2 separate regions of the Homo sapiens genome follow, and region 1 is linked to region 2. A link means that fine-mapping ties the variant in region 2 to the expression of a gene that starts in the linked region. Tissue or cell type: whole blood. Region 2 holds a variant in brackets; the other region holds the start of a gene. All regions are shown on one strand. Distances are between the middles of the regions.

Region 1 (8,100 bases), 56 kb after region 2:
GTGGTGAAACCCCTTTCTCTACAAAAAAATTACAAAAATTATCCGAGTGTGGTGGTGCATGCCTGTAGTCCCAGCTACTCAGGAGGCTCAGGTGGAAGGATTGCTTGAGCCTGAGAGGTGGAGGTTGTAGTGAGCTGAGATCTTGCCACTGTACTCCAGCCTGGGTGACAGAGTGAGACCCTCTCTCAATAAAAAAGAAAAAAGTAAACGAAGATTTAGGTGCTAGATCTGCTCACCCAATTTTTGTTTTTTTGGGACGGAGTCTCGCTCTGTCCCCCAGGCTGGAGTGCAGTGGCGCGATCTCGGCTCACTGCAAGCTCCGCCTCCCGGGTTCACGCCATTCTCCTGCCTCAGCCTCCCGAGTAGCTGGGACTACAGGCGCCCGCCACCACGCCCGGCTAATTTTTTGTATTTTTAGTAGAGATGGGGTTTTACTGTGTTAGCCAGGATGGTCTCGAGCTCCTGACCTCATGATCCGCGCACCTCGGCCTCCCAAAGTGCTGGGATTACAGGCGTGAGCCACCATGCCCGGCCCTGCTCACCCAATATTTTTATCAATAGCTTGAATAAAGGCATAAGGAATGGTTATCATGTTTACAGATGACCCCATACTGGAAGGGGAAGCCAAATGTATGATAATAGAATCAGTTTTCAACATGACTTCAGTGGGATGACATCTGAGCCAGAACCACTAGATTTATTTATTTTATTATTAATTAATTAATTAATTTTTTTTTTTTTTGAGATGGAGTCTCGCTCTGTGGCCCAGGCTGGAGTGCAGTGGCGTGATCTCGGCTCACTGCAAGCTCCACCTCCCGGGTTCGCGCCATTCTCCTGCCTCAGCCTCCTGAGTAGCTGGGACTACAGGCACCCACCACTGTGCCCGGCTAATTTTTTTTTGTATTTTTATTAGAGACGGGGTTTCACCATGGTCTCGATCTCCTGACCTCGTGATCCGCCTGCCTCGGCCTCCTAAAGTGCTGGGATTACAGGCGTGAGCCACCGCGCCTGGCTGGTAAAACTCTTTATTGGACCAAAGTTGATATAAAAAAAATAGTTCTGGTTGTCAGCTGACATGAGTCAGCAGTATTCTGTGACTCAAGTTGCATTCATTCATTCATTCATCCAGTACTTACTGAAGTCCTGCTTACCATGTGCCAAGCACTATTCTAGAGGCTTGAGATACATTACTTAACAAACCAAATAAGCAAAAATCTCTGCCCTCTCAGTCAGCATTCTGGGGGAGATGGGATGTCAGACAATAAAGAAAAACCATAACTAATATATCGTATGTTATTCAGTGATGAGTGCTCTGAAAAAATATCTCAAGGTATTTTTAAGGAGATAAGGGGCATATTAGGAGGAAGTTCAGATTCTTCAAGGTGATAAATGAGCAAAAGGAAGCAAGGGACTCAGTCCTGTGGTTATCTAGGGGGAGAGTGTGCCAGGTGAGGGAGCAGCCAGGTCAAAGGCCCTGCTGGTTCGGGCTACTATATATGTACCTGGTGTGGATGAGTGAGGGGAAAAGTAGTAGAGGATGCAGTGGTACTGGTGGTGAGGATGACATGGAGGGCTTTGCAGACCACTCCAAGTAAGGTCATTGTGAATGAGATGGGGGAACCCTTGGAGGGTTTTGAGCAGAGGAAAGCCCTGATCTGGCTTGTGTTGTGTGTTGTTTTGTTTAAGATGGAGTCTTGCTCTGTAGCCCAGGCTGGAGTGCAGTAGCACAATCTCAGCTCACTGCAACCTCCGCCTCCCAGGCCCCGGTTCAAGCAATTCTCCTGCCTCAGCCTCCCGAGTAGCTGGGATTACAGGCACACACCACCATGCCCAGCTAATTTTTGTGTTCTTAGTAGAGATGGGGATTCACCATGTTGGCCAGGCTGGTCTTGAACTCCTGACCTCAAGTGATCTGCCCGCCTCGGCCCACCAAAGTGCTGGGATTACAGGCGTGAGCCACCACCCCTGTCCTGGCTTGTGTTTTAAAGACTCACTCCAGCTGCTGTGTTGAGAATAGATTGTAGGGGAACCAAGGAGGAAACGGGGAGAACAGTTAGGAGGCCCTTGCAGTAACCAGGAGAAAGAGGGTGGTGCCTGGGCCCTAGGGAGCTGGGAAGTGGTCAGATTATAGATTTTCTAATGGACTGGATGTGAGGAGTGAGATAATGAGAGGAGCTGAGGGTTTTGGCCTGAGCAATTTAAAGATGGAATTGCCATTAAATGAAATGGGGAAGGCTGTAGGTGGAGCACATTTTTGAGAAGGGGGAGAGATCAGGAGCTTAGTTTGGGACATGTTGGGCTCGAGATGGTTTTCAGACAGCCAAGTAGAAATATTGAGGCCGGGTCAGGTGTGGTGGCTCACGCCTGAAATCCCAGCACTTTGGGAGGCCAAGGCAGGTGGATCACGAGGTCAGGAGTTCAAGACCAGCCTGGCCAACATTGTGAAACCCTGTCTCTATTAAAAATACAAAAAATTAGCGGGGTGTGGTGGCATAAACCTGTAATCTCAGCTACTCGGGAGGCTGAGGCAGGAGAATCACTTGAACCCAGAAGGCAGAGGTTGCAGTGAGTGGAGATTGCACCATTGCACTCCAGCCTGGGCAAAAGAGCAAGACTCTGTCTCAAAAAAAAAAAAGTTGAGGCCTTTTGGAGTTAAGGGCTGAGCAGGGCTGGACTAGGCGGCAGATAGGGGTTTGGGTATCACTGGCTGTAGGTGGATTGAACCCATTTAGAGTAAGCATCCAAACCTGGGCAATAGTAGCACTGTGGGTGCTTGGTGCTGTCCATATCCCATGTGGAATTCTGTGTCCAGTTCTGGGAGCCCCTTTAAAAGGGATGCTGCTAGCCTGCACCATGTCCACAGAAGGTGATGGAGGTACAGAAATCATGCAGCATGAGGAAACTTAGCTGTAAGAAAGGAGACCTGGGACCATGTGGGTGCTGTGCCCACCCTCTTGACAGCATCCCTGTTGTGGGAGCAGATGTGGCAGACCCTGAAAGTCGGGAGGAGAGGAAAAGAGGTGCTCTGAGGAGGCTGATTTTGGCTGGGGGTGAAGAGGAGCTTTCCTGCAATTGCAGCAAATTTATGGAGCGATGGTCTCTACTGCCATGGAAATAACTAGCAGAGGCTTTCACTCTTTTGGACTCTTAACTACAGGAGGAACTACTACATTTTTCTGTAATCCTGTGCACACTTAGGAAAAGTTGAAGTAGCTTTCCCAAAATTACTTATCCTTTGAGATTATTGCTTAGATAGTTTCTATGTTTTGTTTGTTTCTTAATGCTGTTGGGATCCACTAAATTGATTTCAGAATCTGCTAATGGTCCAGGCTGCAGTTGGAAACCCCTGGTCTCAGCAGAGCTGAACTCCACCCGTGGAGATGTTAGGAGCCAGGAGGATTAGGGGTGGGTGCCTCTGGGCTTCCACTCCAGTCTTAGGGGTTCCCTTCCCCTGCCGGGTCACGTGCAGGTTGTGAAGGTTTTACCTCCTCAGCAGTACATTAAATCCTATTATCCCACTTAAGCTAATCTTGCCCTTCCCCCACCCGAGGGCTTCGCGTGGACAGAATATTAAGCGGACAAGCCCGCAGGGTGCCTAGACTAAGTGCTGAGCTTGTAGTGAATGCCCAGCCATGACTTGCAGTGGATTGACCTGTGCAAAAATTGGACTCTCAAGCTGCTAGCCCCAGTGTCAGCACGAGCTCGGCCGAGTTCATTTGGTCGCAGGAACAAGGGGGTCGCCAGGAGCAAGAGCGGAGGGGGCGCCTAAAGGGAGGAGACCAAGGCCTAATCACCATCCGCCCCCTAACTCCCTAGGCGCATAGCGGGGACGCAGCGTGTCCCCAAACCAACGCCACTAGCAGAGGGTCCCAGAGGAGCCGGAAGGGGCCAGGGCCTGGGCGGCGGTGGGAGGGTCTGAGCAGTGGGGGCGGGGAGCTGGGGGTCGGCTTTCGTCCGCGTCCCAGCGCTCCGGCGGCCGCCGGGGCTACTGATCCCGGGCTTGGCCCCTGCGGCAGCGCCCCGAGCTGCCGCCCCTCGCGCTGCCAGCGCCCGGGAAGGAGGAAGGGGGAAGGGGGCGGGCCGGCCGGGCTCACGGCCGACTTCCTCCTTCAGCCCCGCCCTCCGCCGCTTGCGGGTGAGCTCTGCCCAAGCCGAGGCTGCGGGGCCGGCGCCGGCGGGAGGACTGCGGTGCCCCGCGGAGGGGCTGAGTTTGCCAGGGCCCACTTGACCCTGTTTCCCACCTCCCGCCCCCCAGGTCCGGAGGCGGGGGCCCCCGGGGCGACTCGGGGGCGGACCGCGGGGCGGAGCTGCCGCCCGTGAGTCCGGCCGAGCCACCTGAGCCCGAGCCGCGGGACACCGTCGCTCCTGCTCTCCGAATGCTGCGCACCGCGATGGGCCTGAGGAGCTGGCTCGCCGCCCCATGGGGCGCGCTGCCGCCTCGGCCACCGCTGCTGCTGCTCCTGCTGCTGCTGCTCCTGCTGCAGCCGCCGCCTCCGACCTGGGCGCTCAGCCCCCGGATCAGCCTGCCTCTGGGTGAGTGCCGGGGACCCGGGGACGCGGGCCGGGGGAAGGAAGGCTGCCGGGGACGTGCCTCGTGCGGAGGTGGCCGTGACAAAGGACCAAGGAGGGGACCTGTCGGAGGCACGGGATCCATTAGGACCCCTTCTTTTTTCAAGGCGCTGCGCGGAGGGAGGGAGAGGAGAGGGGAGCTGTGGGGCCGCTGGCCCCTTTCTTCAGTTTTCTTTCTGCGTAGGGATGGGGTCTAGCCCGCTCTGTCGTCCCCCCTAGTTCCCTTAGGAGGATGCACTTTCGGCGGGGTCCGCCTGCCCATCTACTTGTCTTTGATGCTGACCAGAGCCGACCGCGGTGCCGCCCCCGAGGGCGGCTCGGGGTAGAGGGAGGCCACTGCTTGCAGTCCTATAAACACTGGGGTTCTGGTATTCCCAGCAAGTCGCAGCAGGGCCGGGAGCTGTGGTGGGCGGGCAGGCGCCCGATCCTCCCTCTCCGCCCCTCCATCCCTGGCTTGCCAGTGCAGCCCCAAGCCCCAGCATGGAGAGACCTCCAGGCCCTGGGAGCGACCAGACTGCGGATGGGGGCAGCTCTGGGCGCTGACATTCCCAAGTCCTGGGAGCGAACAGACTGCGGATGGGGGCAGCTCTGGGCGCTGACATTCCCAAGTCCTGGGCGCGACCCCTCCTCAGAGTGACCTGGGAGTAGCATCCTGGTTGGCTGGGTTCCTTTCCTGGTCCTCACATCTGCTTCTGTGGCCACCTCCTGTTTCAGCCCTCCGCCCTTCCCTCTCCTTTTCCCTTCCATCCGGTTGCTTCTCCAGCTCTTCTTGGGGCACTTGGGCTTTAGATTCAGAGGGTCCTGGATCCCAAGCCCATTTCTTCCACTGGGCAAGTAAGTGCCTTCTGCTCCCAGTGCCCCACCTTTCTCATCTGCAAAATAGGCAGTCGTAGGTGCCTTGCAAGGTGTGTTACTCGGGTATGAAGTTTATAAGTGCCCAACAGATGTATCCGCAAGCCCTTTAACTTGTTGGTTGTCATATTGTATGACTTGGAATAAAGCATGTATGAATTAGAGGTTACAGACTGAAACTGTCCCAGACTTCCATCTCCTCACAGCATCCCCACCTCTAAAAGCATCCTGTTTACAAAGGGAAATAGTAGAATCAGCACTTAAATTAAGGCAGGGCCCTAGCGGCTTCAAGTAACCCTACCTGAACCCCTGTCTGAAATACTGCAGATGACCTGGGTTCAAATGCTACCTCAGCCACTTAGTAACCATGTGACCTTGAGCAGGCTACTTAAAGTTTCTGGGTCTTGATTTCTTCATCTGTAAAACAGGTATAATAACAGAACCTACCTCAAGGTAGTGAGGATTAAATCAGCTCGTGTTTGAAAAGTCGTTAGGACAGGGCCTGGTACGGGAACCGCTGAATGAGTGTTACTCAGCTCAGAGTTTACTTCTGTACATCTTGCCCAGATCTGGGGTGATTCTGCCTGGGGTTAGGACAGGGTTGGGGTGTTAGTTTGACTGTAGCCCCTTGGGTGCTTCAGCTTGTGAAGTCAGGATGAACAGGTGTAACCAGCCCCAGGCCTGCTGTCTTGCTACTTCTGTTGTGGCCACAACTCCCTTTGCCCTCAGACCCTCTCATTTTTGGGAGAAGGCAGGGTGAGATGGGGGCAGATGCTCCAATGGACTCCACTTATGGCCTTGGGAAAGCTGGGCCAGCTCATGGGACCATGTCAAAAGACGGTAGGTTTCATGTCCAACTCTGGAACTGGATGGGACAATCACAGGGTAGCTAGAAGGCAAAACTGGAGAGCAGCGAGGGGAATCGAGGGGACCTGCTTCCCGAGGAGCAGCTAGAATACTTGGTTATTATTACCAATGCAGCTGCAGGACCTGGTCCACTTCTACAAGCCCGTGACTGTTCCCAGGCTTCTGTCACGCACCAGCATTCACCTGTCAGGGCTGCCGTAGGTGGGCTTGCATTTTGTGCATTGTACCAAGGTGCCCAGCTGAGGGTTGAGAGGACCTGAAATGCAGTCCACACTCAGCTCTCCAACCTAAGAGTCCTGGAGCAAAAGACCCCTTCTGCTATGTTCTTGGGGCTAGGTCTGCCCGGAGTGGCCCATTTTTCCAGTCCCACCAAAGCCCTGGAATAGTGTAGTGGCACCTAGCTACCTGAACTTGTGAGCACGTATCTATAGTCGACTGAGTTGCCACTATACCCTGGAGTGCCCCCTCTCTGGGCTTCCTCCTGGCCCTCATACCCACCTCCTACTCTTACCTACGTGCAGGTCCTAGGGCTGGCTGGGAGTCCGAGAGGGGAATGCCCTGGTAACTGAACAGGCTCACCCTTGAGTGTGGCCTAAGGCGGTTTCCTGCCTCATCCCAGGGGGCTCATTAGATGTTCCTGGCAGTGTGCCCATCCTGGGCAGGCTCGTGGTGACCATGGGACGCCGGGCCCAGGGCCCTAGTGCCCTCCCTTGCATGCATCTTAGGAGAAAGAGTCATGGAACTGGATATTACACACCCCTCTTTCCTCCTGCCACTCACTCCTCTACTGAATTCCCACCCATGCCCCGTAAGGACCCAGATGCCTAGGGACAGTGGGGCTATGTCTGTGGTTTAAAACAAAATCCCTTGAAGTGGAGCGTCCAGCTTGCCCTGCATCTGGGGTCCTTCATAGGGAACCCTAATTATTGTTGATGAACAGCACATTCCTGGGGTGCTTAAGATGCAGGGAGCCGATTTGTGGCCTCGCCCAGTGGCCAGTAGGGAGAGGAGGATGAGGGGACAGCCACTGGGGGCTCCACAGTCAGCTGGAAATCTCTGAAAGGAACACTTCAAAGAAGTGTGTGGAATTTGGGTTCTCTTGCGTTGGAACTACCATGCAGAGCTCCAGGACCAAAGCCTCGGTCAGGAGCAGGAGTGGTGCTGAGTAGAAACAATGGCGCCCAGTGCTTCCCAGCCTGGCCACGTGGGGAGAAACAAAACACGCCTCCTCTCATGGCCCTCCAAAGTCTTTTTGGGCCACCTTATTTGGACACTTAATGGGAGTTATTATTATTGTTATTTTGAGATGGAGTTTCGCTCTGTCTCCCAGGCTGGAGTACAGTGATGCCATCTCCGCTCACTGCAGCCTCCACCTCCCAAGTTCAAGTGATTCTCCTGCCTCAGCCTCTCGAGCAGCTGAGACTACAGGTGCCCGCCACCATGCTTAGCTAATTTTTGTATTTTTGTAGAGATGGGATTTCACCATGTTGTCCAGGCTGGTCTCGAACTTCTGACCTTAGGTGATCTGCCCATCTTGGCCTCCCAAAGTGCTGGGATTACAGGCATGAGCCACCACATCCGGCCTTAAAGGGAGTTATTAATTCCCTCCTGCCCCAGAAGTGCCGGGCGGGAAAGCTCTGGACGCAGTATTTCTGAAGCAGATTGGACAGAAATCTGCAGGCCTGCAAACTGCAGTCAACAAAACGCCATTGAGCAGAGAGAATGGAGCATTTGGCACAAATCAGCTGCTTGCCCTCTGGCCCTGGAGGAGGCAGCCAGGGTCAAGGCTGCCCTGGGAAGCCCTGATGCTGG
Region 2 (8,100 bases):
CTCACCCGCCCCCGACCACCAAGCTAAATAATTACCTCTTGAAGCCACTTGCTATATGGGCTCTAGACTAACTGACACCACCACATAGCCATAAAATGCCATATTCCAGACACTATAACTCATACCCCATAGCTCAACAATGCATAGCCAATCACAAGCCAATGTTATTCCTGCAAACTAATAAGAACATTGTTGAATCACCCACTCCTTGTCCCCTTTTGCCTTTAAAGGCCTGCTTGTAACAAAAGCCGAACACACAGCGTACCCCAAGGCAACTTGAAGTGTGTCCCCAATGGCTGTCCTCACTCTTGGCCCAAATTAACCCTGTATATTGATTTTGCCTCAGCTTCTTTCTCTCGGTCAACACTAGAATGTCCAACAGCCAGTTTGGGGTGGATGGGAGGGCGAGCCCTCTGAGCACCTGCCCTGTTCGTGCTCTGAGTGGGTCTCAGCGGCCGGACGGCTTGCTCTCCCCTCGGGCCGTGAAGTCCTCAGCCTCCCAAAGTCTGACGTCCTTGGAAATATTTGAGGTCCTCCAGACTCCAGCAGCAAGCTTGTGGCAGGAGCGGCAGGGGGATGAAGGAACTGGACTGTGGGAAGTGCCTAATGAGTCAGCCAACTCTGTGGAGGGGAGGGAAGGAAACATGCCGTGTTAAGAGGATCTGCAAGCCAGGGACGGGTGGGGAGTGGAGCCCGTGGAGGATGGACAGCTGGACCATGTGAGTTTCCATTGTGTCGGGGGGAACGTGTCACCCAGAGGTCTCTCCAGCAGTCTCCCCACCCCCACCCCTGCAGATTCCACAGGACCAAGGGCTTCCCTGGACAAGGGCCTGGTCCTTGGAGTCTAAGGCAAGACTCCAATCTCCACAGTTGCCCGAGCTCTCTTCCCTGTTTGGGACTTGGGAACGGGAAGATTTGGGAGGTGAAGAGCTGGGACTCCCTTTGGTGGAGAAAGCTTGGGTTTCAGCACTGACTTGGAGAGACCAAAACAAAGGGTTTTTGGCCAGGATAGAGTGATTCTCAGGAGGAAAGGCAGGAAAGCATTTCCCCATATTCAGGTAAGGAGAGAGAGAAAATTAACAAACTGTTGCTGTGGAGGGAGACAAACACCTTGATAAACTCAAGAAGCTGGTTACGGGGATCCCGGCAAACCCGCCGGCGCAGAGCACAGTAGTGGAGAGGCCCGGGGAATCCCAGCAAAAAACACCCCACCGGCTGGGCGCCGCGGCTCACACCTGTAATCCCGGCACTTTGGGAGGCTGAGGTGGGCAGATCACAAGGTCAAGAGTTCTAGACCAGTCTGGCCAACATGGTGAAACTCAGTCTCTACTAAAAATACAAAAATTAGCCGGGTGTGGTGGTGGGTGCCTGTAATCCCAGCTACTTGGGAGACTGAGGCAGGAGAATCTCTTGAACTAGGGAGGCAGAGGTTGCAGTGAGCTGAGATCACACCATTGCACTGCAGCCTGGGTGACAGAGCAAGGCTCCGTCTCAAAAAAAAAAAAAAAGACAAAAAGAAAAACACCCCACCAACCAGCAAACAAAACAACAAAAACCAAGGAGGAACGACCAGGAACAGTGTCTGTAGCCTCAAATGCCTTTATACCAGTGACGGTGACACCACACCGTGGGGCCCTGCCCCCAATCAACTGAAAAATGAGGCAGCGACAGTTGTGGGAAGCCATCAGTGGGAGGAGACCAAAAGACTAGAGTGGTTTTTTTCTGCTTTGTTGAAATACAATTGACAAATAAAAGTATACATATTAAAAGCATACAACGTGATGACTTGGTATATGGACACGTGAGATGATTATGACAATCAAGCTGATTGACACACTCATCACCTCCCATAGTTACCGTTGTTACCCATTTTTTTAAAAAAAACGAGAACACTTTAGAGGTACTCTCAAAAGATTGTTTTGTAAAGTTGTTTTTAAAGGTTGGGATCACCCAGACTCTAATTCAAGTGACCTTATGGGAGCCCGGGAAGACAGGATTGTAAGCAGGTAAAGGAAACCTCCACAATTCTGTTTCTTGGTGAGGAGAAAGCCTGTCTTGAAGGAGGTGTGGAGGAGGCGGGGGCCGGCAGCCAGTTGACGAACAGCCAGAAGGTGGCAGTGTCTACCTGGGGAGGGGCAGTGGGCTGAGCCCCTGGCTGGGGCGAGTCCTTTATCACACCACAGCCAGGGCCAGCTGTGTGCAGCCCCAGATTACTCCTTGACAAGACTCAGTCCCGCCAGGCCCTCCCCGCAGGCCTGTTTTTTATGCTGGTCTGGCCATGAGGTAAGGCTGGATAGGGACAAAGTGCCCGAGCATGACAGCTGCCCAGGCTGGGCCCAGTTGCACAGCTTGGGTGGCCCTAGCCTTCGAGCTCTAAATCGAGTCTCCTCCTACTCCTAGCCCATGGCAGTCGGGCCCCGGACATTCTCCTCACTGCTTCCAGGATTCTAGAGGGCTTTCCAGTGCCCCTGGCCCCAGTCCTGCAGTGTTGACCTCCTGAGTCCCTGCCTCTCACTTCCCGGTGATGTCCCTCTGCTCTGTGCCCATCCTAGAAAAAAAAAAAAAAAAAGCCCTCTTTCTATGCTTTCTTTTTTCTTTCTTTTCTTTCTTTCTTTTTTTTTTTTAATGAGACAGTCTTTTTCTGTCACCCAGACTGGAGTGCAGTGACGTGATCTCAGCTCACTGTAACCTCTGCCTCCCAGGTTCAAGCGATTCTCCTGTCTCAGCCTCCCGAGTAGCTGGGACTACAGACACCCGCCACCACACCCGGCTAATTTTTGTATTTCTGGTAGAGATGGGGTTTCACCATGTTGATCAGGCTGGTCTTGAACTTTTGACCTCGTGATCCACCCACCTTGGCCTCCCAAAGTGCTGGGATTACAGGCGTGAGCCACAACGCCCGGCTTTTTCGTATTTTTAATGGAGATGCGGTTTCACCATGTTGGCCAGGCTGGTCTCAAACTCCTGACCTCAGGTGACCCACCCGCCTCAGCCTCCCAAAGTGAAAGTGCTGGGATTACAGGTGTGAGCCACCGTGCCCGGCCTTTCTATGCTTTCTTGTCACATGAGCTACAGCTTTTACTGAAGGCTTGGGCAATAGAGGGGTGTACTGGGGTGTACTTAGTAGGAAAACAAACCATTTCAAAAAGAATAGTACAGATCCTGTTCTTAAAAGTCCTTTGAGGTCTGGCATGGTGGCTCATGCCTGTAATCCCAACACTTTGGGAGGCCAAGACAGGCAGATCACAAGGACAAGAGTTCGAGACCAGCCTGGCCAACATGGTGAAACCCCGTCTTTACTAAAAATTAAAGAATTAGCCGGGGGTGGTGGCATGCGCCCGTAGTCCCAGCTACTCAGGAGGCTGAGGCAGGAGAATTGCTTGAACCTGGGAGGCAGAAGCTGTAGTGAGCTGAGATCGCACCACTGTACTCCAGCCTGGGCCACAGAGCAAGACTCCATCACCAAAAAAAAAAAAAGAAAAGAAAAAAAAAAAGTCCTTCGAGGCTGGGTGCAGTGGCTCACTCCTGTGATCCCAACACTTTGGGAGGCTGAGGCGGGCGGATCACCTGAGGTTGGGAGTTCAAGACCAACATGACCAACATCGAGAAACTCCATCTTACTAAAAATACAAAATTAGCTGGGTGTGGCAGCACATGCCCGTAATCCGAGCTACTCGGGAGGCTGAGGTAGGAGAATCACTTGAACCCAGAGGCGGAGGTTGCAGTGAGCTGAGATCACGCCATTGCACTCCAGCCTGGGCAACAAGAGTCTCAAAAAAAAAAAAAAAGCCCTTTGGTCTCCCCGCCACTGTGAAATTCTCAGTGGACACATACCTCCCAGGCTCTGCCCTTGCCATTTTGTTTTCTCCCTCCCTCCTCCCTCCTTCACCCTTCATTTCTATGACCATCTTTCCATTTCTTCTTCTCTTTTGGGGTCCCTCGCCCCCAAGTTCCGGTTAACGTTCTCTGTAAAGCCGTTTGATTCCTCCTGTGTTTAAACATCTTCCTTCAACTATGTCCTTAGCACCTCCCCTTCCTCAACAAAAGTGGCTATCAAGATATTTTCCTAAACAAAAACCGGTCTCACCCTGCTAAATGCATTGGAAACTTACCACCTGGTGTATATATTGGCCTCCTGAGCAATTGATTAGTCTGAGTCCACAGCTGGGACCTGGCTCTCCTCTCCACCAGCTGCCAGGCGGAGGGCAGACCCAGGGCCCCAGGGGTGAATTTGTCAGGGCAAAGGCCTCTGTGGGCAGCCTCTTGGCAGCCTGCCAGTAGCCCCTTCTGGCAGCGTCCCACCTCTCCCGGCATCACAGATCAAGCCTCAGAAGAGCAGGGCCTAAGGAGAAAACCCGAGAGTGACGATGGC[A/G]AAGAGTGATCACAACACCCCAGGTGGGTGGACTCCGGGGGAACGCAGAGGTACTCGGGCCCAGAGCTGGTGGGAGAGGGGAGGTGATGGGAAACTGGACACCCAGAAAGTCCCACCAGCATGGAAATCCACTGGGGGGCTCAGCACCCCTGGAGAGGCACTGGGAGTTGGGAGGATCAAAGGAAAGACAGGGCTCTCACTGCCGGTGAATAGGACAAGCTGGGAAGGAAACAGACAATGCTTTCCAGGTTGGATTGCCAAGGCAGAGAGGCAAGAGAGGGGATGGAGAGAAGTCTTCAAAACTGCCATTCAAGGCCAGGCACAGTGGCTCTCCACCTGTAATCCCAACACTTTGGGAAGTTGAGGCAGGAGGATCGCTTGAGCCTAGGAGTTTGCGACCAGCCTGGGCAACATAGCAAGACCCCGTCTCTAAAAAAGTAGAAAACTTAGCAGGACATGGTGGTGTATGCCTATAGTCAGAGCTATTCAGAAGGCTGAGGTGAGAGGACTGTGTGAGCCCAGAACATCTAGGCTGCAGTGAGCTGACATCACACCACTACACTCATTCAGCCTGGACGACAAAGTGAGACCCTGTCACAAAAAAAGAAAAAAAAAAAAAACAGGCCAGGCATGGTTGCTCATGCTCATAATCCTAGCACTTTGGGAGTTTAAGGCAGGCAGATTGCCTGAGTTCAGTAGTTTGAGACCAGCCTGGCCAACATGGTGAAACCCGGTCTCTACTAAAAATACAAAAATTAGCCAGGCATGGTGGGGAGCACCTGTAATCCCAGCTACTCAGGAGGCTGAGGCATGAGAATCACTTGAACCTGGGAGGCGGAGGTTGCAGTGAGCTGAGATCGCACCACCGCACTCCAGCCTGGGTGAAAGAACTAGACTCCATTTCAAAACAAAACAAAAACCAAAAAACTGCTCTTCAATAAGCCCTTACCACGTGTCAGGCACTGAACACTGACAGCAGCTAACAATTACACTGACTTACTCCACACCAGGCTTGTTCTAAGCAGCTGCTGTCCAATAAACACATAATGCAAGCCACATAGGTAGTTTTGTTGTTGTTGTTAATGTTTGTTTTTGGGTTTTTTTTGAGATGGAGTTTCACTCTTGTTGCCCAGGCTGGAGTGCAATAGTGTGATCTTGGCTCACCGCAACCTCCGCCTCCCGGGTTCAAGTGACTCTCCTGCCTCAGCCTCCCGAGTAGCTGGGATTACAGGCATGTGCCACCATGCCCGGCTAATTTTGTATTTTTAGTGGAGATGGGGTTTCTCCATGTTGGTCAGGCTGGTCTCAAACTCCAGACCTCAGGTGATCCGCCCGCCTCGGCCTCCCAAAGTGCTAGGATTACAGGCGTGAGCCACTGCGCCTGGCCTAGTAGTTGTTTTTTAATTTATTAATTTACTTTTCACCATGGCAGAAAAGAGCGTAGTTTTAAAAACTCTAGTAGCTGCATTTTTAAAAGTAAAAACAAAAAACCCACTGGTGAAATTAATTGTAATAATATATTCTATTTAGACTGAGTGTGGTGGCTCACTCCTGTCCTCCCAGCAGTTTGGGAGGCTGAGGCAGGCAGATCACTTGAGGTCAGAAGTTCAAGACCAGCCTGGCCAATATGGGGAAAGCCCGTCTCTACCAAAAATACAAAAATTAGCCAGGCGTGATGGCATACGCCTGTAATCCCAGCTACTCAGGAGGCTGAGGCAGAAGAACCGGTTGAAGCCTGGAGGTGGAGGTTGCAGTGAGCCGAGATGGTGCCACTACACTCCAGCCTGGAGGTGGAGGTTGCAGTGAGCCGAGATGGTGCCACTACACTCCAGCCTGGGCAACAGAGTGAGACTCCATCTCAAAAACAAACAAACAAATAATATATTCTATGTATTACAATATATTCTATGTAACCCAATATAATCAATAATTAGGGAGTTATTTTACTTTTTTTTGAGACAGGGTCTCACTCTGTTGCCTAGACTGGAGTGTGGCACGATCACAACTCACTACATCCTTGACCTCCCCTAGGCTCAGGTGATCCTTCCACCTCAGCCTCCCGAGTAGTTGGGACTATAGGCGCGTACCACCAGGCCCTGATAATGTTTTGTATTTTTTGTAAAGATGGGGTTTCACGATGTTGCCCAGGCTGGTCTCAAACTCCTGGACTCAAACAATCCACCCACCTCAGCCTCCCAAAGTGCTGGGATTACAGGTATGAGCTATTGCACCTGGCCTTTTTTGTATGAAGTCTTCAAAATCCGATGTGAATTTATGCATACATCACATTTCAGGGTTTTTTTGTTTGTTTTGTTTTTTTGAGACAGGGTCTCACTCTGTCACCCTGGCTGGAGTGCAGTGGCACAATCATGGCTCACTGCAGCTTTGACCTTCTAAACTCAAGCAGTCCTCCTTCCTCAGCCTCCCGAGTAGCTGAGACTACAGGCACATGCCACCACACCAGGCTAATTTTTAAATTTTTTTTTTTTTTTTTGTAGAGACAGGGTCTCACCATGTTGTCCAGGCTGGTCACAAACTCCTGGGCTCAAGCGATCCTCCCGCCTCAGCTTCTCAAACTGTTGGGATTACAGGTGTGAGCCACTGTGCCTGGCCTCCCGACTCAGCCTCCCAAAGTGTTGGGATTACAGGCGCGAGCACCACGCAGGGTACATCTCAGTTTAGACAAACCACGTTTTCTTTTTGTTTTACTTTTTCTTTTTTTTTTTTGAGATGGAGTCTCGCATTGTTACGATCTCAGCTCACTGCAACCTCCGCCTCCCAGGTTCAAGCAATTCTCCTTGCCTCAGCCTCCCAAGTAGCTGGGATAGACAAGCCACATTTCAAGTGCTCAGTAGGTACTGTGGCTGATGGCTACACTATTAGATGCAGCTGTCTAAGTGCTTTAGCTGTGTTAGTCCTCACAACTGTGCTTTTGTTATCCTCATTTTACAGATGAGAAAATTTACACAGAAAGTGCTTCAGCACTTTGCCCATTGCTACCCAGAAAGAAAAGGGCTGAGCTGGAATCTGAGCCACCAAGGTCAGCCAACTGAGGGTCCACAGTCTGGTGTCCTAACAACTGTGCTATGCTGTCAGCTTCACAAATCTCATCTCCCATAGGAGGTCATCAAAAAGCTGCTTGCAGCTGGGTGCAGTGGCTCACACCTGTAATCCCGGCACTTTGGGAGGCCGAGGCAGGCAGACCACTTGAGGTCAGGAGTTCAAGACCAGCCTGGCCAACATGGTGAAACCCCATCTCTACTAAAAATACAAAAATTAGCCAGGTGTGGTGGTGCGTGCCTGTAGTCTCAGCTACTTGGGAGGCTGAAGCAGGAGAATCTGCTTGAACCCTGGAGGCGGAGGTTGCAGCAAGCCAAGATTGCGCCACTGCACTCCAGCCTGGGTGACAGAGCAAGACTCTATCTCAAAAAGAAAGAAAGAAAGAAAGAGAGAGAGAGGAAGGAAGGAAGGAAGGAGGGAAGAAAGAAAGAAAGAAAACAATAATCCAATATATAGGCAAGAGCCCTTACTTCTCTACTACTTACAGTCTAGTGTTCAGAGAATGTAGGAGTGAGCCCAGAGAGCTTCCCAAGCCTACCATGTCGTCACTGCCTACAAGAGTCCCTGAAGATGGCCACACAAAACCCTGGGGCTTACTCATACATGTTCACAGTTTCATTTTCTTATCATATTGGTCAGTTTCATCTACACTGGAACGTGGTTCCACC

What was found. PIP is the estimated chance that this variant, and not a neighbour inherited with it, causes the effect.
Region 1: it holds the start of SEMA4B, and the variant in region 2 is fine-mapped to the expression of SEMA4B in whole blood (INTERVAL, PIP above 0.99).

The regions. Positions count from the first base shown.
Region 1 is chr15:90,197,203-90,205,302 of GRCh38, forward strand. It overlaps SEMA4B (semaphorin 4B), which reads left to right and starts at 4,128. Exons shown (of 14, transcript NM_198925.4): 1 at 4,128-4,533. The coding sequence starts at 4,377. RefSeq lists an enhancer at 3,676-4,647 and a silencer at 3,820-4,579.
Region 2 is chr15:90,141,215-90,149,314 of GRCh38, forward strand. No RefSeq gene overlaps it. Among named protein-coding and RNA genes, the nearest start is that of IDH2, 43 kb to the left of the region's middle. RefSeq lists enhancers at 483-777, 2,327-2,861, 7,975-8,100. The variant A/G (reference allele first, on the strand shown) is at 4,373.